7 linked regions of the Homo sapiens genome follow. The protein of the gene in region 3 purifies or fractionates together with the protein of the main gene of each other region. This does not show direct contact. Each region holds a gene or a part of one and is shown on either strand. Other genes may lie near its edges.

What was found.
Region 1: the proteins of HDAC9 (region 3) and TPR purify together in Homo sapiens (affinity purification with mass spectrometry; one large-scale study listed by BioGRID and IntAct). This does not show direct contact.
Region 2: the proteins of HDAC9 (region 3) and NUP93 purify together in Homo sapiens (affinity purification with mass spectrometry; one large-scale study listed by BioGRID and IntAct). This does not show direct contact.
Region 4: the proteins of HDAC9 (region 3) and FIP1L1 purify together in Homo sapiens (affinity purification with mass spectrometry; one large-scale study listed by BioGRID and IntAct). This does not show direct contact.
Region 5: the proteins of HDAC9 (region 3) and MKI67 purify together in Homo sapiens (affinity purification with mass spectrometry; one large-scale study listed by BioGRID and IntAct). This does not show direct contact.
Region 6: the proteins of HDAC9 (region 3) and CAPG purify together in Homo sapiens (affinity purification with mass spectrometry; one large-scale study listed by BioGRID and IntAct). This does not show direct contact.
Region 7: the proteins of HDAC9 (region 3) and ANXA8 purify together in Homo sapiens (affinity purification with mass spectrometry; one large-scale study listed by BioGRID and IntAct). This does not show direct contact.

What each region holds. Positions count from the first base shown.
Region 1 is NC_000001.11:186,313,703-186,316,253, forward strand, and holds part of TPR (nucleoprotein TPR), read right to left. Parts: intron 1,023-2,551; coding exon 927-1,022; intron 866-926; exon of another isoform or gene 325-865; coding exon 269-324; 3' UTR 77-268; coding exon of another isoform or gene 1-76. Other genes in the region: PRG4 (proteoglycan 4 isoform A preproprotein), read left to right, coding at 1-76.
Region 2 is NC_000016.10:56,733,129-56,736,628, reverse strand, and holds part of NUP93 (nuclear pore complex protein Nup93), read right to left. Parts: intron 1-3,500. UniProt on the Homo sapiens protein: Plays a role in the nuclear pore complex (NPC) assembly and/or maintenance. May anchor nucleoporins, but not NUP153 and TPR, to the NPC. During renal development, regulates podocyte migration and proliferation through SMAD4 signaling.
Region 3 is NC_000007.14:18,498,749-18,502,248, reverse strand, and holds part of HDAC9 (histone deacetylase 9), read right to left. Parts: intron 1-3,500. UniProt on the Homo sapiens protein: Responsible for the deacetylation of lysine residues on the N-terminal part of the core histones (H2A, H2B, H3 and H4).
Region 4 is NC_000004.12:53,380,641-53,384,140, reverse strand, and holds part of FIP1L1 (pre-mRNA 3'-end-processing factor FIP1), read right to left. Parts: intron 1,864-3,500; coding exon 1,806-1,863; intron 369-1,805; coding exon 265-368; intron 1-264.
Region 5 is NC_000010.11:128,116,424-128,119,923, reverse strand, and holds part of MKI67 (proliferation marker protein Ki-67), read left to right. Parts: intron 1-604; coding exon 605-671; intron 672-3,387; coding exon 3,388-3,433; intron 3,434-3,500. UniProt on the Homo sapiens protein: Protein that associates with the surface of mitotic chromosomes and acts both as a chromosome repellent during early mitosis and chromosome attractant during late mitosis.
Region 6 is NC_000002.12:85,394,253-85,397,309, reverse strand, and holds the end of CAPG (macrophage-capping protein), read left to right. Parts: intron 1-1,683; coding exon 1,684-1,772; intron 1,773-2,351; coding exon 2,352-2,417; 3' UTR 2,418-2,557; downstream 2,558-3,057. UniProt on the Homo sapiens protein: Calcium-sensitive protein which reversibly blocks the barbed ends of actin filaments but does not sever preformed actin filaments. May play an important role in macrophage function.
Region 7 is NC_000010.11:47,474,116-47,477,615, forward strand, and holds part of ANXA8 (annexin A8), read right to left. Parts: exon of another isoform or gene 3,128-3,500; intron 3,080-3,127; coding exon 2,966-3,079; exon of another isoform or gene 2,965-2,965; intron 2,208-2,964; coding exon 2,117-2,207; intron 1,989-2,116; coding exon of another isoform or gene 1,951-1,988; exon of another isoform or gene 1,476-1,950; intron 1,458-1,475; coding exon 1,378-1,457; intron 890-1,377; coding exon 830-889; intron 284-829; coding exon 190-283; intron 1-189. UniProt on the Homo sapiens protein: This protein is an anticoagulant protein that acts as an indirect inhibitor of the thromboplastin-specific complex, which is involved in the blood coagulation cascade.

The sequences.
Region 1 (2,551 bases), on a different chromosome or scaffold from region 3:
GCCTAGTAGAACAGCAAGAGCAATTACTACTCGTTCTGGGCAGACCTTATCCAAAGTCTGGTACAACTGTCCTTAGACTGATGAGCAAAGGAGGAGTCAACTAATGAAGAAATGAATAATAAATTTTGACACTGAAAAACATTTTATTAATAAAGAATATTGACATGAGTATACCAGTTTATATATAAAAATGTTTTTAAACTTGACAATCATTACACTAAAACAGATTTGATAATCTTATTCACAGTTGTTATTGTTTACAGACCATTTAATTAATATTTCCTCTGTTTATTCCTCCTCTCCCTCCCATTGCATGGCTCACACCTGTAAAAGAAAAAAGAATCAAATTGAATATATCTTTTAAGAATTCAAAACTAGTGTATTCACTTACCCTAGTTCATTATAAAAAATATCTAGGCATTGTGGATATAAAACTGTTGGGTATTCTACAACTTCAATGGAAATTATTACAAGCAGATTAATCCCTCTTTTTGTGACACAAGTACAATCTAAAAGTTATATTGGAAAACATGGAAATATTAAAATTTTACACTTTTACTAGCTAAAACATAATCACAAAGCTTTATCGTGTTGTATAAAAAAATTAACAATATAATGGCAATAGGTAGAGATACAACAAATGAATATAACACTATAACACTTCATATTTTCCAAATCTTAATTTGGATTTAAGGAAGAAATCAATAAATATAAAATATAAGCACATATTTATTATATATCTAAGGTATACAAATCTGTCTACATGAAGTTTACAGATTGGTAAATATCACCTGCTCAACATGTAATTATTTAATAAAACTTTGGAACATTAAAAAAATAAATTGGAGGCTTAAGGATTAGAAAACTTGTTCCATTTATTACTATTCCACATTCTATCATGTAATCCAGTTATGTCAGAAATTCACCTCTCTGTCTGTTAAACTGACGACCACGGACACCTTGTCTCAATGTTGTCTGAAGTCTTACTCGTCTGAAAGGCTTTGGTTGACTACTACTAGTATCTAAGAAAAACATTAAGATAAAAGAAAAGCAAGTGAAAAAATGAGAAAGCATTTATAATGATACAAACTAATTACTAAATGAATGAATGAATAAGATGTAGACTTGTTCATTTGATTTCAATTCTTTTTTTCAAACAATGAGGAACATTTAACAAACCGAAAAAGGGTAAATGGTTAAACAACAAAAAAAGCAGCACTTTGGGAGGCTAAGGTGGGAGGATCACTTGAGCTCAGGAGTTCGAGACCAGCCTGGGCAACACAGCGAGACCCTGTTTCTACAAAATTATAAAACAATTAGCTGGGCATGGTGGAACATGCCTACAGTCCCAGTTACTCAGGAGGCTGAGGCTAGAGGATCACTTGAGCCCGGGTGAGGTTGAGGCTGCAGTGAGCCATGATCAAGCTAACAGTACTCCAGGGAGACCGGTGAGATCCTGCCTTAAAAAACACCCAAAAAACCAGGCAGACCAAGGCCCTGTCTCAAAAAAAAAACAAACAAACAAACAAAAAAAAAACACCAAAAAAAAACCAGAAGTGCTTGACTTTTTTTCATTCATTCACTTATATTAATAAATATTTACTTGTTGACTACCCATGTATCAAACATACTGCCAGGTGCTGAGAAATACAACAGAAAACAAAATATCAAGTCCCTCAGCAAACAGCCTACAACAGAACACAAATTATATCTGATTCTTTTTCAGACACCCCAAATGCAATCATTAGCAAATCATGAATGCTCAAATTTAAATATATATCCCAAATCTGACAACTTCTCACAATCCTAACTCTACCATCTCACCTAAGCCATTACTATCTTTTCCTGACTTACTGCAGTAGCCTCCAAAGTTTCTCGTTTCTGTCCATTATTCATTTTTAATCTCTTCTGTATGCAGCAGCCAAACTGATCAGATCATGTCATGTCATTATTCTGTGTGAAGCCCTCCAATAGCTTCTGGTATCCATGACAGCCAAGGCAATTACAATGATCTACTCGATCTATCCTCTCCCGCCTCTTAACATATCTCCTGCTACTCTCTGTTCTCACTCACTGTGCTCCAGCCACAGTGGCCTCCTTGTTGACCCTGAACACAAGCAGACACACTGCTGCCTTATGGACTTGGCATCTATTAATATTCTCTTTGATCTAGTATGCTCTTCATTAAGTAACTGCACAGCTTTGATCCCTTTCTTCTTTCAGCTCTTAAATGTCACCTTCTCTTAGTGATGCTTCCTATGAAACTGCCTGCTACACTGTCAAATATTTGTTGACCAAATGAATACTCAGATGGGGGAAGTACAGTTTTACATTATCAAATAAATTTAAAGACATCGTAATTTCATATTATACTTTAAAGGAAACAACCATATTTTCTCATACAAGCTCTGATAAGATATAACAAGTGCTAATTCTATTGAGGAAAGCCAATTTTTATGGGACGTCAAAATATAACTGGGGGCACAAAACTTCAGTAATCATTAATATGATTGTTATACATTTTTTAAGCCTTACTGCGTATGAAATGGTT
Region 2 (3,500 bases), on a different chromosome or scaffold from region 3:
TCCTCCGCCTCTGCCCCTGGCTTCTGTCTCCCAGGTTCTAACTCACCCTGTTCCTTTGCATCTCTGTGTTACCTCAGATTGTTTACTTACAGGTGTCCCTCCACTCTCAGACTCAGAAACCAAACACATGTAGATACATTTTTCCATAGCAAGCAGGCAGGTATTCCTCATTATCCAAACTATTGCTACTCTCTAACTAAAACTCAGGAAACGAAATACTACAGACTCAGATAACATGATATTCCTCACTCTCCAAACTCTCATTACCGAAACAGATTATTTATTTATTTATTTTTGAGATGGAATCTCGCTTTGTTGCCCAGGCTGGAGTGCAATAGCGTGATCTCAGCTCACTGCAACCTCCACCTCCCGGTTTCAAGCAATTCTCCTGCTGACTCAGTCTCCTGGGTAGCTGGGATTACAGGCACGTGCCATCACGCCAGGGTAATTTTTGTATTTTTAGTAGAGATGGTGTTTCACCATGTTGGCTAGGCTGGTCTTGAACTCCTGACCTCAGGTGATCTGCCTGCCTCAGCCTCCCAAAGTGCTGGCCTTACAGGCGTGAGCCACTGCACCCAGCTCCTAAACAGATTTAAATAGCATGGGGTATTTATATTTTTGCAACATCCTCTAACTATTGCTTTCATCCCCATCACTACCACCTAAGGCCAGACCTTCATTCCTTTAAGTCTAAGTCCTTCTTACATGCTAGAACATGGGCTTCCTCCTCCTAGCCCTGCCCCCAACTCTATGCACCCTACTCTCTGTGGCCACCTCTAGCTTCCTTTTTTTTTTTTTTTGAGACGGAGTTTCACTTTTGTCCCCCAGGCTGGAGTGCAATGATGAGATCTCAGCTCACTGCAACTTCCACCTCCCAGGTTCAAGCGATTCTCCTGCCTCAGCCTCCCGAGTAACTGGGATAACAGGCACGCACCACCATGCCCAGCTAATTTTTGGGGTTTCACCATGTTTGCCACGCTGGTCTCGAACTCCTGACCTCAAGTGATCCGCTCGCCTTGGCCTCCCAAAGTGCTAGGAATACAGGCGAGGGCCACTGCGCCCGACCCCATCTCTCTTTCTGACACGGCTGTTGCCCCTGCTCAAAAAACCTCACTGGCTCCCATTCACAGGGATCCATCCAGGTGAGTCACTGCTTTTAACTTTCTACCTCCCAGAATAAACCTTGTGTACCAGTCACTTGATTTACTTGGTCCCTGACTATCCTTGCACATGTCCTGCTCTGTGCCATTTTTCCCAAAAAGAAACACCTACCCAACCTTCCACTGCAGCCCTGAGCTCCAGCCAGCTCCTTCACTCTTTAGCTCGATGACTTTGGGCAAATTAATTACTCTCTCTGGGCCTCATCTGTGAAATGGAAAAATAACTGCATCTCCCTCACCTGTCACAAAGTAACCACTCAATAAACATTAGCTATCATTATTACCACCAACTCAAGTCCTACCTACCAAATGGTCTTCCTCAATACACATTACCTACAGAAAGTTTCCCTCATCTAAATTCCTTTTACTCCATTCATTTATTTGCCCGACATCATCTCCTGAGCTCTGTCTGTGTATGAGTCCCCACTATGGGCTTTATTTGTATAATCTAATGTCATCCTCACAGCAGACCTCTGGTGTCCAAAGGGACCAACTGGTACACAGGTTTTTCAGCAGGGCAACAGCCGTGTCAGAAAGATAGAGATGGGCACAGACAGTAGGGTGCATGGAGTGGGAGGGGTTAGGGGGAGGAAGGCCGTATTCTAGCATCTAACAAAGACTTGGACCTTCCCCATCTTCCTCATTTCAGTAAATAGTATCTTCATGCTAGAAGTTGCTCAGGTCTAAAACCGTGGCATTGTCCTTGACTTCTTTTCTCCTCTTATACCCTACATTAGCAATTCATTTCTACACTACATTTATTCATATATACATGAGTCAGACCCACTTTTTGTCTCTTCTACCACTATCATCCTGGTGCAAGCCACTCTCATGTGTCACATCTGGGTGATATAGTAGCTTCCTGTCTCCCTGTTCTTACTTTGTCCCCTCCCACTTCCCAGTCTGTTCTCCACACCACACTGGGAAGGATCCTCTAAAGGGGCTCAAACCTTCAATAGCCCCCGTCACTCACAGGCTGAGATCCAAAGTCCTTACCCTGTGCTGTGAGGCCTACATGACTGTCCCCGACCCAACTCCTTCTGTTACCACTCTTCCCCAGGATTATGTACTTTGGTCCTATGGCCTTCCACTCTTCTTCAAATATGCTAAATACACTGCTGACTTGGGCTTTCAGTCACTGTTTCCTCTGCATCTGCAGGAATATTCTCCTCCAAAATACCTACCTAGCTAACCCCCTTAATTCCTTCAAATCTCTGCTCAAAGGTTTCCTTTTTAAAGAAGCTTCTCAGCACACCCCAGCTAAAGCAGCCCCACCGTCCACTCTACCACATTTCTGTTTTACCTCGTTGGTAGTATGTTATCAATTTCTGGCATCACATGCCTACCTGTTTGTTCATTTATTGTCTGTCTCCTAACAGGCTCCTTGAGTCTGGGAACCTTGTCTGGTCTGTCCACAGCCCCATTCCCAGTACACTGAACAACAGCACCTAATGCTCAATAAATATGTGTTAAATGAATGAAGGAAGGAAGAGAAGACTATAACTTTGGTGTACCTAACAGATCAATGTAGGAATTTTTGGCAAGGTTTGAGAAAGTTTCTTCTGGCTTTTAGCAACTGTGTATGGGGGATCTAGCTGTTTGAGGACACAGTTGAAGCTATAAAAAAGTATAAAGCTATAAAATATTTCAAACGTTATGTTATTCAGGGGAGAAGAGATGGAGGTATTAACAGACATTAATACAAGGCAAATAAGTGAGCTAGGAGGACTCTAATCTATCAAAACAAAGGGGATTCTCATATCTCTATGTCCAGCCCAACTCTTTTCCCAAGCCAGTATTTCCAACTGTCCACCTAATACCTACACCTGGATGACTCATGGGTGCCTCAAACTACACATGTCCCAAATCAGACTCATCACTTCTCTCTCCTTAGCCACTGCCACCACCAATGCTTCCTTCTCGTGGGTTCCCAGTCTCTTTTCGTAAAACAATTAGCACACAGTCAGGTAAGCCAGGAACCACCTTCAAGTCACCCCAGCGCCCCTTTCACCTCCTCAACACTCAGCCAATCTCAAGCTCTACTTCTCAAACCTTTTGCAAAGTCATACCCTCATCTCTCGCCCCTTCTCTGACTTGCACGCCGACTAAGCCTTCTTGTTCCTCCAATCAACCTCCCCATGGTCAGGGAGGTCTTTCTGAAATGCTTTCCTGCCTTAAGTCCATCAGGGACACCTTCCATCCCCTACAGAATAAGATGCTCATGTTTTGACAGAGCTATAAAGGGTGCTCTCCATAGAACAGACACTGCCACCCTTACTATCCTCATCCCTCGCTGCCTTCCCCCAATTATATACCCTAGCAATTCTCTATTCTTTGGGG
Region 3 (3,500 bases):
AGACGCCAAGACAGCAGTTTCCCCTCTTTGTCTCTGGAGTTTGTCGTGCATAAATAACATGATGCTTGAAACTGCTACGAGTCAACTTGTGACCATTGGAGGATCCAACCTTTGTCTCTGCAATTTGTTATGCATAAACATACATAATGCTTGGAACTGCTACAAGTCAGTTTGTGACCATTGGAGGATCCAATCTTAGGATCACACCAACCAAGGCTAAGACCAGCAGAGTGGAGCTATATGAAGGACCTGAATGCTGCTGCCATTTTTGACTACCTGGTGCTGCCTAACCACCCAACTACTTTATCACATGATAAATGTCCTACTTGTCTGTCATTTTGACTAGAGTGTTCTTTTATCTGCAGGAGAAAACAACCTAACTAATATACCTACTACTTACAATTAATCACTGTTAGTATTTTGACATGGTAGCTTTGTGTGGGGGTGTGTAATGAACACTTCTCATAGAATACATGCCTATTATAAAAAATCATACACTGTAAAGAGGTATGATGCTGAAAGAAAAAGCCCCTCCTCTTCACCAAACACAGCACAGCATCTTTCCTTATTTCTTCCTATCTTTATATGAATTCTTCAGGAGATGGATGGATAGATTTAAAAAATTATAAAAATAAGAACATATCACTGATGTTATATTTATTTTTAAAAACTGAAATTAAACTTAACTGAATTTAAATTTAAACTTAACTGAATTAAGCAGATTTAAAACTGCAGTTGAAGGAACTATAAATGTACTAAATACTTCCTTAACGTAAGAGATACTATTTCCAAAAAGACCTCTTTAAGGTTAAATAAACTATTTTTAAAAATCAGTGCTTTGAATCTTTTTTTTAAGTATGTGTTTCTATTTTAAGCAGCAGGGAGTCTGTCCCTGCTCAGAAAGGGAAGGATATTAGCATTTCTCACATCCTTCCATCTCACCTCTCTCTAACACCTCACACTGGCCAGCTTTATTAATATTTTTACATTCCCCTACTTTATAATATCTGTTTTCTGCCCTATAAACACAATCCAATAGTTGTTTAAATGCATTCAGTGTTCCCTCGTTACTTTGATAATGTTTTCTCTACTTCTGAATTTAGTTTTTTGTTTGTTTTAAGTTCATCTCTTCACTGTGTGGCTTTCACTGTCAAGCAGCCTCTTTCATGTTTGAGAATTTCTACTTTGTCTAACTGTTTTCCTTTTTCATTTACTCTGATTTTTTTCAAACCTTTCATCTTTATGTGTAAAGATTTTTACCTGGGCCTATTCTGTTTTCTTCTATTTCTAATGAATATTTTTTTCTATAATCATTATGATTTTCCATTCTTGATTCATTTCCTGAGATCTATATCTCCTTTCTCATCTCATTCTCTTGTTTATCATCTCACCTTTCAGCTTTTTTTAATATAAAATTTATGTAAGGTGCTCTATTTGTAGGAAGCAATACTAAGACGTCTAATTCCATGGGTTCAATGAGTTGATGTTTTTCTTCTTGGCAGAATCTCTAAGTTTAGTTGGTGAAAGGTACGTCATTCCAAAGAGCTATGGATCGATCTTTCTCCCAATTTAGTACGCTGCTCTGAAGCCTTCATTTCTACTATTTCTCAGCCACAAGAGAAAACAAGAACAACCCAAAATGGTGAGGATACCTACTCAGTTTTCTTCTCTTCAGATTTGGGAATCTTAGTGAGAATCCTCAGGAACTGGTCAACTTGCCAGTAAAATTCTAAGACAGCCCAGGAGACAGGTCTCTCTGTTATGATCAAAGAACCTCTGCATCCATTTTTGCCTTGGCTGTTAGCCTCTGAGGTATGTTGCATTAGGTTATATCATTTTCTTTGCTCAGTTACTGTTGAATATATTGGGTGACAGGGATGGAAGGTATGTTTGCTGGCTGACATGCTATTTTGGGCTCACTTCATTATTTATCAGTAGTGAGAAATTATGAGGCACATTTTAAAATTGCTCATCTCCAAAATTAAAATCATCATTTAGAATATTTTTTGAATTCAGAATTTGGATTTATTTCAGTCTTCCAAGGGGTTTTATTGGATTTTCTTACTTAACGGACATAACAATAATTATGCCTCCTGTGTCATCCTTAGAAATATGAAATACTCATTCTTGTCTCCATTCTCAATGAGCCCATTTATAATTATATTTCTGATTGATACCTATCATCTATCTCAATTGATAACAGACTTGCAAGTGAAGATAACCTGAGTTAGAGAATGGCAAAACAGTAATTATGGGGAATACCAGAAGTGATTCTTGACATGACAGGAACATTTCACAGACTTACATTTTCATAATTAGATTCTGCTTTTCAAGTAGACATAAGTGACGTGACTACTGAATCTAAAATGTTCCCTTCCCCTCAACACCATACACTAAGGAACAAAAGGATTCAAAAAAGGGTGAAGATATATAAAAGAATTTCAGGACTTTGATTTAAATGTTTTTCTTTTATACCCTAAAGTAAGAATAGATGGCCAAAATATGAGCTTTCCTTATTGTAAATATATCTTACATTACTTCTGTACAAACTCTAGGAAATTCCTTCATAATAATTGTTCCAATATTGTCTGGACAGCTCTGCTGCCCAACGTGTTAAGCAACATGCTTGGCAATGGGAGAACACCCCTAATCCTGCCAGCTCCTGCAGAGTGACCTGAGTCAATATTTGTACATGCTTCACTTTCTGCCACAGTTATCACTTACCCTGGCCCACACAAGCCACAAAAGTAGGGATGTACTTGACAAAATGTGTCACTCACACTGAATTCTAAGATTTAATATTATAGAACTTTAAACTAAAATATATTAGTACAATATTATAGAACCTGGTTCTACCAAACATGTTTAGCCTGGCCGAGTCAATATCAAAAAAACATACAACCATAAAAAAAACTTGTATTCCAATAGTATATAAAGAGCTCTGTACAAAAACCATCAATATTAGTGCATAATATCCAATATAACTAGAACAACAAATGGGAACTCTAATGCAATTGCTAAAGAAATTACACAACATAACCAATGTTTTAAAAATAATCTCATGAAATCTGCGATTGGGGTTCACTGTTCAATCACATACTGTGCAACTTCTTTGCCTTTATTACATAATGAGACATTTCAGAGAACACACACACACACACACACACATACACACCCTACTCTTACCTATAGTGATAGTCTGCATAGGAAAGATCTCAACTCTTATCAAACCAAGGTAACAAAATAAATAGTTGATTTATAAGATAACTAAGGCAAACTGATTATCAAAACAAACAATCATTTCCCCCATGTGACCTACAATGTAACTCATGTGGCTTGTTCAGCAAGATAGAACATGGCATTGAAAACCAAGATCTTAGGTTCATTCACTAAAAACAACAATTCTAATAGTGAGTATACGTTTTAAAGACATATTGATACATCTGAACCTCACAAGAATGCTAAGAGGCAAGCAGGAGGACATCATTATTCTTCAGTTT
Region 4 (3,500 bases), on a different chromosome or scaffold from region 3:
CTCTATGCCTGGCCTAGCACTCAATTCTTTTATAAAAACACTTTAAATTCAGCATCAAAAACTGCTGCTTCTATGTACCTTCGCCTAATCAATTAACTGTATTTTAGCAAAGAAGTATATTCATGATGAAACTTTAACAAGTTCTTTTATGTTAAAATAGAAAAATGTAAAAACAATGGACTCAACCACTGAGAGTTTGATATAGGCACACTCTCCTTACTATATAGCATTTACACAATTGTTACTTACTAAAAAATAACTTACCCATACTGTGGTGCTCCCGTTTTAATGTCTCCTATAGTGACATGAACATCATCTTCATCATCATCGCTGTCACTATCACTATCATCTTCGGTCTCAGTCACTTTCTACATGAACATAAACAAATTATAAAATACATTCAGTAATCCATTTCAACATCTAATACTAATAACTAAAAAAAGTAACCACCCTGTTTTTTTTTTTCTTTCTTCTGTCTTGAGACAGACTCTCACTTTGTCGCCCCGGCTTGAGTGCAGTGGCATGATCTCAGCTCACTGCAACCTCCACCTCCCAGGTTCAAGCAATTCTCCGGCCTCAGCCTCTAGAGTAGCTAGGATTACAGGTGCCCGCCACCATGCCCAACTAATTTTTGTATTTTTAGCAGAGACAGGGTTTCACCATGTTGGCCAGGCTGGCCTCGAACTCCTGACCTCAGGTGATCCACCCACCTTGGCCTCCCAAAGTGCTGGAATTACAGGCGTGAGCCACCATGCCCGGCCCCACTCTGTATTTTTTTGAGATACAATTTAAAAGTTACAAGCTTATAATGCTGCCACCTATTTCAACTCATAATTTTGATGTTCTACAGGATAAAAAGGATAAGACTATGAATAAAGAAATGAAATCTTTTTGGCATCATCTCCTTGTGGTAAACAACACCTCATTTTTTTTTTAACTATCATATCTGCCCCTCTTGCAAAAAGATCTAAAGCAACTTACTAAGATACCTACAAGATAAAATTATAAAAAATAAGTATTTGAGAAGTCTTGGCAAAAAAGAATCTAAGAGGAAAACAATTTTAAGATTCACAGTGTCACAAATACAATGTACCAAATCAATTAAAGAATTAAAAAAAAAAACCCCAAAGCATAAGAAGTACCAAATAGTTAAGTAGAAGCTCAGTTATTCTTGGTATTCTTGTATACCTAGAAGAGGCCCTACATGCAAATTCTATATTTGTGAAGATTTTACTTTGGCTCTTAAAGGCTATTTTGTGCTTAATCACATCATAGTAAATAAGTAGATCACATAGGCAAAATACTTTTTTGTATACAACTTCAAACTTCCGGAACAATAACTTCCTTCCTTTTATAGGATTAAAATGCACAAATATTCATAGGACCAATGATATGTTCACCTCACAAAGTATCAATGGCATGCAGGCATGCAGTCAGGGACTGTCACATACATTAAAAAGCAACGTTAAAAAATCGTAACAGTGAAAGGTTGTGGGCTCAAAACTTGCTCTGAAAACCAGGCTCACTATATTCAGTAGATTTATAACCATTCAATTCCTTGAAAGCAATAAACATCAAGCCTTTGCACATACTATTTTCCTCTGCAGTCTTTCTACTATTTCTTTTCCTCATTTTAATTCCTATATATGTTTTTGATGGCACCAGATGAAGTAGGAGATGTAAGAAAGGGCCAGATAACACCTGATACTGAAGGTAATGTAAAATGCCAGCTTGCTTTCTATGTAAACTGTGAAGCTATTGATAAAGATTTGTATCAGTAACTGGATTTCAAAGCCTTATGTTACCGGTTTTGGTACACCATTTTCAGCAGTTTCATCTTCAATTCCAGATGGAGGATTAGCACTACAAACAACAAAAGTAAGTATACATGTCAGGCATTACTTTTCGGAAGTACAGATAGATTATATTAGTATTTCTAAGCTTTAATAAAGCTCCTAAAATTATTGTCTCCACTGGAGACAGTAATGGTAAAATCTGACTGTCTTATTCCGTTATTTCTAGTAACTTGCAGAAGACAAGTACTCAACATTGTAAGTAGAATGCAAATGCCAGGCTGGGCGTGGAGGCTCATGCCTGTAATCCCAGCACTTTGAGAGGCTGAGGTGGGTGGATCACGAGGTCAGGAATTCAAGACCAGCCTGGCCAAGATGGTAAAACCCCGTCTCTACTAAAAATACAAAAAAAAAAAAATTAGCCAGGCATGGTGGCGGGCACCTGTAATCCCAGCTACTCGGAAGGCTGAAGCAGACAATTGCTTGAACCCAGGAGATAGAGGTTGCAGTGAGGCTGCAGTGATCATGCCACTGCACTCTAGCCTGGGCGACAGCGTGAGATGCTGTCTCAAAAAAAAAAAAAAAAAAAAAAAAGAATGCAAATGCCTTCACAGTTTATTAATGATTTATAATTTGATGGTGGGCTATAATTCAAGCTTTTTACACATTTTAAAAATATATGACAAACTTAATCAATTTTAATTATCCTAAATCAATTTGATCTTTACAGTGGCATTTTATAGCACAATCACCAAATAAAGCAAAATGAAAGATAAAAAGTCAAAACATAACTGTTATATTTTCATTGTTCTACTGCTTGCTTCAAGAAAACAAATATGCAGCTATAATTGTTCAGTACATTTACCTCCTGCTGAAATAAGCTTCTAGGTAGCCAGAAGCAAGTCCCATTTGCTTTCTACGTCACAAAACAGTATCCCTTCTTTAGTCAAAACTTGGATAGATATAACACAATTGGAGACTGCAATGCAATGTTTAAGAAAAACAGAGGCTTCAGCAATGAGCCAGTCAGTAGGAAACGGGCAAATTCTAATAGCAGGAACTTTGGTAGAGCAATGCAATGATGTACCAAGCCAGATAGCAGTAGGTCTGGCAGAGTACCTTTCTTCAATAGGCCTACTCTTTTGGAAGTTTTAATTTTCTATCACCATTAAAATGTTAGAAACATGATAAAATTTTAAGCTTTTTCTAGAAAAATAACACTGTAAAGGAAATTGTTTTTTCCCCCATAGGATGAAATCAACTCAACGGCTCCCCAAATGAAGTTGCAGAAAGGAATATAAAGCTATGTTGACAGTGACACTCAGGGAAGGTAGAAGGTTCCCTCCAATAAATTTTAGCAAGTTGTGTATTGCGGAATTAAAATTAAAGAATGTTTGATTAGAAAGTAAGCTTTTAAAATTGTAACCAATAAAAATAAAAATTAATGGGATAAAGATTATCATATAGAAAAGTATATTTGATTGTAAAACTATACCTGTAATTAATTTCTTGACCAACTGAAGGAATGGGTACAAAGAAATATTCAATCACTTTCATAACATAAACTAAAACTAATCTCAACTTTGTGGTTGAGATCAGAATTAGGAACTGAGTTGAATATATAAATTTTAAAATGAAATAACATTTCAGATAATATACCAATGAGTGAAAAGACTATAGGGGATTTTTTGGGTAAGGAAGCTGAAC
Region 5 (3,500 bases), on a different chromosome or scaffold from region 3:
CACTGAGGTTTGCCAGGACAATTATGTATCTTGCTAAAGGTGATCTTCTTAAGATGTACCTGTCTTGTTCAGATACAGACTGAATGTGTGGGAAACTGAAGTGATCATAGTGTTCTAAAATATAGGTTTGTAGTTACCCTGTAGTGTAAGTGTAGCTTTTTATTTACCCTGAAGTATGTAACTTCACAACGTGAGAAAGATTCAGTTACCTACAGGCTTCCTGGCTGGCCTTCCAAGCCATCCGATGATTTCCATGGACTTAAACTAGAAGAAACTTGACTTTGCTCTCATGTGCATTAGCTTATGTCATAGAAGGTGCTTGGTAATATTGTCAAATCATACCTGGGCTGTTCGTCAGTGATCAGAAGTTAATCTGGGTCCCCAGCCTCTGACAGTGGTATTTCAAAACAAACTCGATGCAACTAATCCTAGTTTTTAGTGTAAAAGCACTTTTCTAACTCTAAATTTATTTCTTTGTATAAGGTGATGTCTTGAACTAAACCCAAAGTTTGTTCGTTGATCCTTGGACATTAAGTGGATATGGAGACTTCCGCCCCAGGGTATAAATTTTTAATCAGGATCTTTGTCGTTCTATAAACTGCAGGTATGAAAATGAAAGTCTTCAGAATGGAAGGAAGTCAACTGAATTTCCAAGAAAAATACGTGAACAGGTGATAGAAAATATCCAAGTTTGGGCTGATTCGTTTCGATGATATGAAATCATTTATGTATGCTTTAATGATTTCTTACTTGAAATCAGTTACAAAGAGGGTGGTTACTGTTATAGTAGGAAAATGTAACTAAAGTATAAAAACGAGTTGAACTTAGACGTATTAAAATAATCTAAAATGATATTTCCTCTTTATTGTTCAAAATCAGAGCACTAAGTTGGTCTTACACTTTTAGCCAAAAAGTCTATTAGAGCATGTTGCGAGCTTTTTGCAAACCCATGATTAGGATAACCCCAACACGTAGAGCTAACATTTGGGAATTGCATTATCTGGTGGCTCATTTTGTCGCCCAGTCATTGTACTCATCCGTCTTTATGTGTCTGAAATAATCACATTATGAAAATCATGAGTGCCAAAGATGCTTCTCTATTTTGATAGATAGACGACCCATGAAACAGGAAAAGGGATCCTGTGCTTTGTCTTGTGAGAGAATCCTATAGTTTGAGTGTATCAGTGTGGAACAGGTATTCCAATTGTACAGCTTATGAAAACATAATTGTCGACACGTGCTTCGCAATTTAGATAGTTTGAGTATATCAGTGTGGAAGAGGTATTTTAGTTGTACAGCTTATTAAAACACAGTTGTCGGCATGTGCTTGGAAATTTAGTGGGATTTAGGCTTAGGATGAGCCCTGAGAATTCATATTTTTCCTACATTTTAGAGTGCTCCTAAAGCTAGTTTCAGATGAGCTCCTTGGAATATCTTGGCTTAGGAGAGTTATCTTAGGTGCACCTGAAATTAGCAGTAGGTACTCTTGAATTTCAACATTTCTGCCTTTTTTTTTTTTTTTTTTTCTGAGACGGAGTCTCACTCCGTCACCCAGGCTGGAGTGCAGTGGTGCGATCTTGGCTCACTGCAACCTCCGCCTCCTGGGTTCAAGCAATTCTCCTGCCTCAGCCTCCCGAGTAGCTGGGACTACAGGTGCACACCACCATGCCTGGCTAATTTTTGTATTTTTAGTAGAGACAGGGTTTCACCATATTGACCAGGCTGGTCTTGAACTCCTAACCTCGTGATCCACCCACCTGGGCCTCCCAAAGTGCTGGGATTACAGGCTTGAGCCACCATGCCCAGTCCATTTCTGCCATTTAAGTACTGCCTTCTTCCCTAGAGGAGCAGCCTTAATGTTGAATCTGATGGTCATCAGTTCCCGTGCTGGAAGCCAGTTTCTGAGGCATCCCACACTGTAGCCACCAGGCAACTTGCTAGTCTATGGGAGTAAATAAACCAAAAAGCCAGTTGAACTGTGGGTTAGATATGTGCCACTCAGCAGTCTAGGAACTGTTTGTTCTGTTACTGGTCTGTGATATAGTGAGTACTGAAATGGAGTATGTAGTAAATATGACAGCAATTCGACAGCAATTTTGTGGCTATTGAATGTAATCGTACAACAAAAGTGAGATTATATACTTTACATATTCATAATTTTATTAGTGGTTCATTTATATTGTTTAGTCATAAGATTCTTGTTCCACTTCAGATTGGAAATAAAAAACCATCCCTCACATAGATAGTTTTAGAAGCAAGGTGTTACGTATCAAGAAACCTAAAATTGATTAAGGAAGTTAGATTCTTTGCCTTTGTTAATATTTTTTAGATATTTTCTTAATAATCCAGATGATAAGCTTTTCTTCCTTTGGGGCATCAGACTTTTATAAAAGTTATATATATATGTTATTCTTTAGTTCTTCCACCCTTCCGGAAATAATTCCATATGAAGGAAAGTTAGGGCGCTGTCTCTGGGGAGCCAGGTGGGGGCGCTGCGCCTGCTCCCAGGCTGTGAGGTTGCAGAATCTGTGAATATACCATGTGTGCCTGTACCATGAATTTACCTAGGGTGAATCTAGGCTCTCAGATCCACCCTAAGTATCCACCAGCCAAGAGGGCGCACATGCCAAGTGGAGCCTCAGTTCATCGACAGGTCCTATGGCCCATTTATGAGAAAACTGATGACGCAGTCAGTAGTTCTGAGCTCGTGGGGGGTTACAGATCTTCAGTATAGGTGATGTTTAATATTGACTTTGGTTCTTCCGCAATAGGATGTTGGGAAATATCTTTAAAGGAAGTTATAAAAACACACCGAGGTTTGATTTTAGTAATTTTAAGCCTCGAATTTGTTTCCTATTAATCACTCACTATTTTTTAATGAGTCAGCTAATAAGTACTTTTATCCTGACCACTAGCTCCCAACTGACTTGAGCTCATTTCTCAAACAGTCTTTAAAAGTCATATACGAGTGGTTTGGTAAAGAAAACAATTTTTTATTGTTTTTATTTTTATTTTTTGAGACAGAGTCTCGCTTTATTGCCCAGGCTAGAGTGCAGTGGTGCAATCTCTGCTCACTGCAACCTCTGCCTCCCGGGTTCCAGCAATTCTCCTGCCTCGGCCACCTGAGTAGCTGGGACTACAGGCACCTGCCACCACATCCAGCTAATGTTTGTATTTGCAGTAGAGATGAGGTTACATCATGTTGGCCAGGCTGTTCTCAAACTCCTGACCTCAAGTGATCCGCCCACCTTGGCCTCCCAAAGTGCTGGGATTACAGGCATGAGCCATCATGCCCAGCCAGAAAACAATAAATAATATTTTCACTGTTGTGACTGTCATCATTTAGAAAGACCTGCAAATAACTGTTCTTATTTTCCCAACTTACAGGAGCCAGCACGTCGTGTCTCAAGATCTAGCTTCTCTTCTGACCCTGGTGAGTAGTGGTTGGGTTTTGTTCCAGAATCCTGAAAGATCAGGTCTTTGCGAAGCATATTGGCAAA
Region 6 (3,057 bases), on a different chromosome or scaffold from region 3:
TTCACTAGGTCTGGAGTGGGGCAGAACATGCATCTCTAACAAGGTTATGGGTTATGTCTGTGCTGCTGGTTCCAGGGATCACACTTTGAGAACCACTGCCCTAGCCCAGCTCTAGACCTTTGGGGCTTCTGGGACCCCTGATCCTGGGATTCTGTCTCAAGGTTTGACAGAAATGAATTTTAGACAAATTAAACATCATTTTATGCAGTGAGTGGTGAACCTGTAGAACTTGTTTTTCCAAAAGATTCTATCTTCTGGAAATAGAAACACTGTTGGGCAGAGCCTGTTCTGCTTGGTTTGACTGAAAATGAAACAAACTTGTTCTCAGTCTCTGCCTGGGGTCTGAGAATTTTCAGCAATAGCATTTGCTCAACACCCAGTTGTGGGGTCAACCAAGGTGGAGAAAATGCCAGCCCCTAGCCTGGTCAGGAAGGCAGACAAGTAGGTGGGTATCTACAGATAGCTGCTACCAGGCATTTCATAGTATTGCTTCTGAAACTCAGCAGGGATAGAAGTGAAAGGGAGGAGCTGGGAGCAGCAAAAGAGTGGAAAGCGAGAGGCGTGTGCTGCAGGGCTGCCTTTTCTCTCCTGCCAGAGGGCACATATCCCATGGAACCAATGCCAAGCAGAGGGGGGTTCACAGAGGCCCACAGAAGCATGTATAAACCGGAGCAAGGAACCCAACAACTATGGAAAGAGAAATCAGAGGAAAAACAGGAAACTTGGGAGGCCAGGAAGAGAAGGATCTCATGGGTAGGGGGGCAGCTGGTCAGTTGACAGAGGAAGGAATCCAGCATATTAATTTCAGATACATTGTAGTTCATGGCATTTTATAGCCTGCCTAGAGAGCCAACCACATCACGGCATCGTTTCGGTATCATTTCCTTGGAAAAATGTCTGGCAGCCTGGGCAACATGGCGAAATATCACTTCTCTACAAAAAAAAAACCCCCCAAAATTAGCTGAGTGTGGTGGCGTGCACCTGTGGTCCCAGCTACACGAGAGGCTGAGGTGGGCAGATTGCTTGAGCCTGGGAGGTTGAGGCTGTAGTGAGCCGTGTTGGTGCCGCTGCACTCCAGCCCGGGCGACAGAACGAGACTGCGTCTCAGAAAAAATAAAAATAAAAAAGCCTGGAATGAGCAGTTTGAGTTCTCAGGACTGCTAGCAGAAATGACTGGATTACGTGGGGTCTTCATTTTTGTAAGTGCTTAGTTAGCATAACTGTTAGGCCAGTGTAGCCCTGCTGGCATTATGGGAGTAAATCACCTCTATAATAAATTGTACCCTTTGTCTTATTTAGTTTTTCAGAAAAGGCTTGATGAATTCAAGAGGTGAGGGGTCCTAGAGGAAAAGGAGACCTGCGGCCTCACAGTCTGATGCTAGGGTGAACACCTGTTCCCCTCCCTGAAATATTCCAGGGGCCCAGGTCAGAGCAGAGTTTTGCATGATCAGACCCGGGCAGACGAGGGGTTTTCATCTACCTTGGTGCTGCCGGTTTGGGAAAATTCTTAAGGGACTGACTCCACATCTCCAAAGAGCCCCTCGGCATTCTTGGGACCCCTGGTCCATTTATTGTAAAAATTGCTGGCTCTTCTGTGGACTCCCTTAAATTTCCTCAAGAAAAATGGGATGGCAGCTAAAGAGGGTCCCTGCTCTTTTTAAAAATCTCCTTCCTATGATCTAGGGCGAAAAGCGAATGAGAAGGAGCGGCAGGCAGCCCTGCAGGTGGCCGAGGGCTTCATCTCGCGCATGCAGTACGCCCCGAACACTCAGGTGAGGAGATGCGCACAACCACAGCCCTCTTCCTAGGGCTCTTCCTGTGGCCCCTGACCCCTCAAATTGGCCAGGAAGGGCAGGAGAGCCTTGGGCACTGTCAGGAACAACCAGGCCTCCCTCTTAGACCCATCCAGTGGGAAAGCCCATCTCAATCCTTCAAAATGTCAAAATACTTATTATTTTCAAAGAGGATGTTGGGCAGCACTCTCCTGGGTGCCCAGAGAACTGGGTACTCCTCCTCTGGGCCGTTGTCCCTGGCTGGTGCCACCCCTCCTGCCGCAGCACAGTGTCCACAAGTCATCCCGTGGGGAGCTGACAGGGCTCAGCTACCGTTGGTGGCATTTATTAAACTGTGCACCCACGCCCTTGAAGCAGTCTGTTGCCTCTGTCTGTGTCCCTGAAATCTTGGTTCTCATCTCATGGCTCATCCAGGGGAGCTTTCCCAGCCTGGACTGCACATGGATTCAGGCCAGGCGCCCACACCCTCCTCCCTGGCTCTGGCCCCCTCCTGTCCTCCTGGGCAGAGGCAGAGGTGGCAACTTTGTGAACCAGACTTCTCCCCCGCTGTCCCTGCAGGTGGAGATTCTGCCTCAGGGCCATGAGAGTCCCATCTTCAAGCAATTTTTCAAGGACTGGAAATGAGGGTGGGCGTCTTCCTGCCCCATGCTCCCCTGCCCCCCACCACCTGCCTGCTTGCTTCTCTGGCTGCCTGGTCAGTGCAGAGGTGCCCCCTGCAGATGTTCAATAAAGGAGACAAGTGCTTTCCCAGCTCTTTTCCTGCACCACCTGCCCTGGGCTGATTCTCACTGTCACCCACCTATTCACCTGGGTTCATCCCCATGCTGGGGGTGGAGTAGCACACAGATGACAATTGGACAGCCTTGGAGGGGCCAGAGCTGCTTTGCATGACAGAGGAGTCCCAGCCAGGCTTGCAGGGACTGCCATGAACCCAATAGGGAGGTGGCACAGTGCCAGGCCTCAGGATCAGTTGCATCCGGGTGTTCAGTTCAGTCTCACATTCCCAACAGGGAGAAGGTTGTGGCAATGGGCTTGGGATGCAGTTCCATTTAAGGCAGTATTTCTTCGGATGCCCTAATAAAGCACTGCCAGGCAGCTTCAAGTGACATATGCCCACTGAGCAAGAGAGGACAGCCTTTCACAATTGTACCAAGCCTGGCTTATTACTTCGTAGGCACATTGCCCAGCATGTTTGGCTGGTGAGCCCAGGGCCACTGCAGGGCTGTGCGAAAAGCACCAGGCTAGCATGGACAGTCTTCAGTCT
Region 7 (3,500 bases), on a different chromosome or scaffold from region 3:
CTCAGTGTCTCGGATCAGAGATCGCACATCAATTTGCCGCCCTGACCTCCCACTGGTGGCTGGGGAAACAGTCCTGGGCTCCCTGGCTCTCTCCCTAACTCTAGACTTGACAAGGCAGAAGCACGAGGGAGAGGCTCATGGCCAGGACACCCCCTGTGGCCCCGGCCCCAGCCCCTCCCTCCCTGGTACCTCTCAGCAGGTGAGTGGCACTGCGCGTGCACAGGATGGTGATGAATTTCATCTCATCAGTCCCACGAATCTTCTCGCCTGCCGCATACAGATCCTAGCATTGGGACACCCACAATAAGCCAGTGAGGGAGACCAGGGAGGTGAGGGACTGAGCCCCAGAGTCCCAGAGCTGTGGCCATGGCCTGGCCCTGTCCACTCTGCCAGGCCAGCATGCTCCCCTGCTTGGTCGTCTCTGACAGGGAGCTCCCCTTTCTCTAGCAGCTCTGGCTTAGAATATTTTCTCTATCCTGGGCCACAAGCTGCTCTAGGAACTGCCTGGTCCCCAGACTTCCCTCTGCCAGCAGGCAGACCTACAGAGACCCGGACACCTGTGTCCAGCACTGGGGCCTAGCGCCCCCGGGTTCATGGGCTGTTCCTGCCAGGACAGAGCTTTAGTGCTCCCCCACCCCCAAGTCACACTCCTTCCTCCCGAGTCTCCCAACACCCTCACTCTCCTCCCCAGACACCACAGGACAAAGGCCTATAGGGAGCTGAGCTGGGTGGGTCCCAGCCCAGTGTCAGAGAAAGCCCCCGTGGGCAGAGGAGCCGGAGTCCAGATGGCAGGGGGTGGGGCCACATGGCCGGCTGGGCGCAGCCTCACCTGTGCGTCTTGGAGGGCCAGTCCTGGGTCCACAAAGCTGCTCACATCATCCCTGCTGCCCTAGGAACAGAGGAGGTGGCTCTGTAAGGCAGGCCAGCTGACCAGAGCATTAAGGGCACAGGGGGGATCCTGGGCTTGGAGGGCAGGCATGGCTCTGCTGCTCTTTGGCTGTGGAAACTTCGACAAGCCAGTTATTCTCTTCAGCCCTTGGTTTCCTCATTTGTACAATGGGGGTGGTAAGGACTGCCTCATAAGGCTTGGCGGATTCAGTGAGCTAAGGTAAGCAAAGTGCCTGGCATGAGGCCTGCACGAAGGACCTGCTCTCCTCCCGCTTCCAGGATGCTCTCACATGGCTGAGTAAGGACAGGTGTGGGGGCTCTGCAGTTGGGACCCTCTAACCATGCTGAGACACACCCAATGAGCCCTGGCTGCTGGGCTATCCCATGCCCCTACCCTGACTCTTGTGGCGCTATTCAAGGGCTGCTCCCTGGGGTGGAGCTGTTGGGACTCCCAAACCAAGGCACTCCCAAGAGCCTAGGCTGTGACACCTGCAGGAGGCACACCAGGATCCTCTCCAGGTAGCCACTTGTGTCTGCTTGGATGTCCTCCTCCAGGCTGGACCCATAGTCTGCAGGGAAACAGGACCATGAGGCACAAGCAGAGGCCCACAGCCTACCCGGGGCCTGCTTTCCTCCTTCCAGCCCTGTTCCCCATACTTCTCCTTATTAAAGCCTTCTAGGAAAGAAAGTCCTTGGCACAGGGCATGGATGCAATGCCCGGGTGTCCAAGTGGCTGTCGCCTGGGTGGTGCTTCACAACTAGAAGCGACATGCGTACCCAACCAAGCTCAAAGCACAAGATGGACCAGGTCAGAGAGCCAGGCTAGGGGCTGCCAACCAAGCTCCATTTCATCTCAAGGCTTGGCAAAGCCAAAGCCTCCAGGAAAACTCCCCACTAGGTACATGATGTGGAGGACTGACTGGCCTCTGCTAGCCTGGGGTCCACACCCCCTACTACCACAGTCCTCAAGGGCAGAGATTTTAGTTGGTCACAGGCCTCTCTCCCCTGTAAGAGGAGCTGGTGAGCTTACAGATCAAGTCTGAATCATGTTCAGTGTCACCATCAGGCACAGATCTTGGCATACGGTAGGTGCTCAGCACCTGTGGGTAAAAAAGTCCCCAAAGGGTCCTTTCTAGTGTGGCCCAGGTTAATTCTTGATCCTTGTTCCCTGCCAGGCTGCCAAAGCTTGTGGCCACTCCTGAGCCCCTCCATCTGTGCCACCCCTTACCTTCCTCATACGCCTTCATTATCTCCCGCAGCTGGTTCTTGGTCCGAGAGGCCAGGATCTCAATGATGACACCCTCCTTGGTTCCTAAGCCCTGTGGACAGAAACCTCTGCCTGCTGGAGTGCTCTGCCATGACCTTCTGCTCTGTCCACACCTTCTTTTCTCAAGATGCCTGAGCCTCAGGAAGGACCTCACTGCCCTGCCCCACTTGAAGTGGGAGGATGTGATGAGAAAATCACATGCTTCAGTGATGAACATTGAGGGCAAGTGCTGTGACGGGGAAGCCCTGTCTCAGCTCTCCCTCCTTAGCTGGGTGGTCTCAGACAGGCTGCTCCATGTCCTGGAGCCTAAGCATCCCGATCCATAAACAGGAATAAGAAGCCTCCCCTGCGCCAAAGATAGATTAGGGAGCGTGGGTGTAAAATGCCTGGCAGTGCCCATGCAGCAAGTGTCTTTCCAAACAAAATGACTATAGTTACTGGGTCCCCATCCTTATTAATCTGCAAAAGCAAAGAGTAGTGAGAGGTAAAGGGAAACCCAAGGGGCTGTGCCTGGGACTGTAGAGGTGGGTTTCCAATACCACTGTACACCTGAGCTCGTGAGGTTCTGAGAAGTACTGATTTTGGCTTCATCACGGCCACTCAACGTGTCAATCAGGCACCAGTGACTCCAGGTGTTGGGTGCAGTCTGAGCAGCAGGCTGCCTGCTCACTGGGCCCAGTTATGGCCCATATGGCCATTCCAAACAGTGGCTCAAGGGGAGCTCTGGGCTGTAGGTTCCCGGTCCCCGCATTGCCCCTACCCAGTCATGTGAGCACCCCTGCCACTCCCCTGCCCTGTCTGCCTGGTTACCTTCATGGCGTCATGCAGCTCCTTGGCTTCGTATCTGTATGGCGGGTACATAAGGGCCACAATGAGCCTCTCAAACTTGCCACTGAGCTCAGACTTCAAGGTCTCAGTGAGGTCCTAATGCGGGAACAGGGAAAGGTGATATTTGTCATAAGCCAGGCCCACCTGAGTGCAGGCAGCGGAGTGGTGGCTGGGTCCAGGGGCTTGGGCTGGATTCTGCGTGGGCCTTGCCACGTGCTGGCTGGGTTTCTTGGGCCAGCTCCTTAGCTTCTCTTAGCATCAGTATCTTTACCGGTTACACGGAGAGAAACGTGCTCCTGCTTCATCCCGTTGCTTAGGGGGTTGTGTGTGACTCAATTCAGCATTCAGTGCAGTGCTGGGCACATCATAAGCTCTCAGTAAAATGAAATTGGTATTGCTAGCTAGACTGCAAGCTCTGAGTATGGCATCACCATAAAATACCTGTCACTTGGCACTCAATGAATGAATGCATGCCTGAATTAAAGACTTCGTCTCACATGTGCCTCCTTCTAAGGTC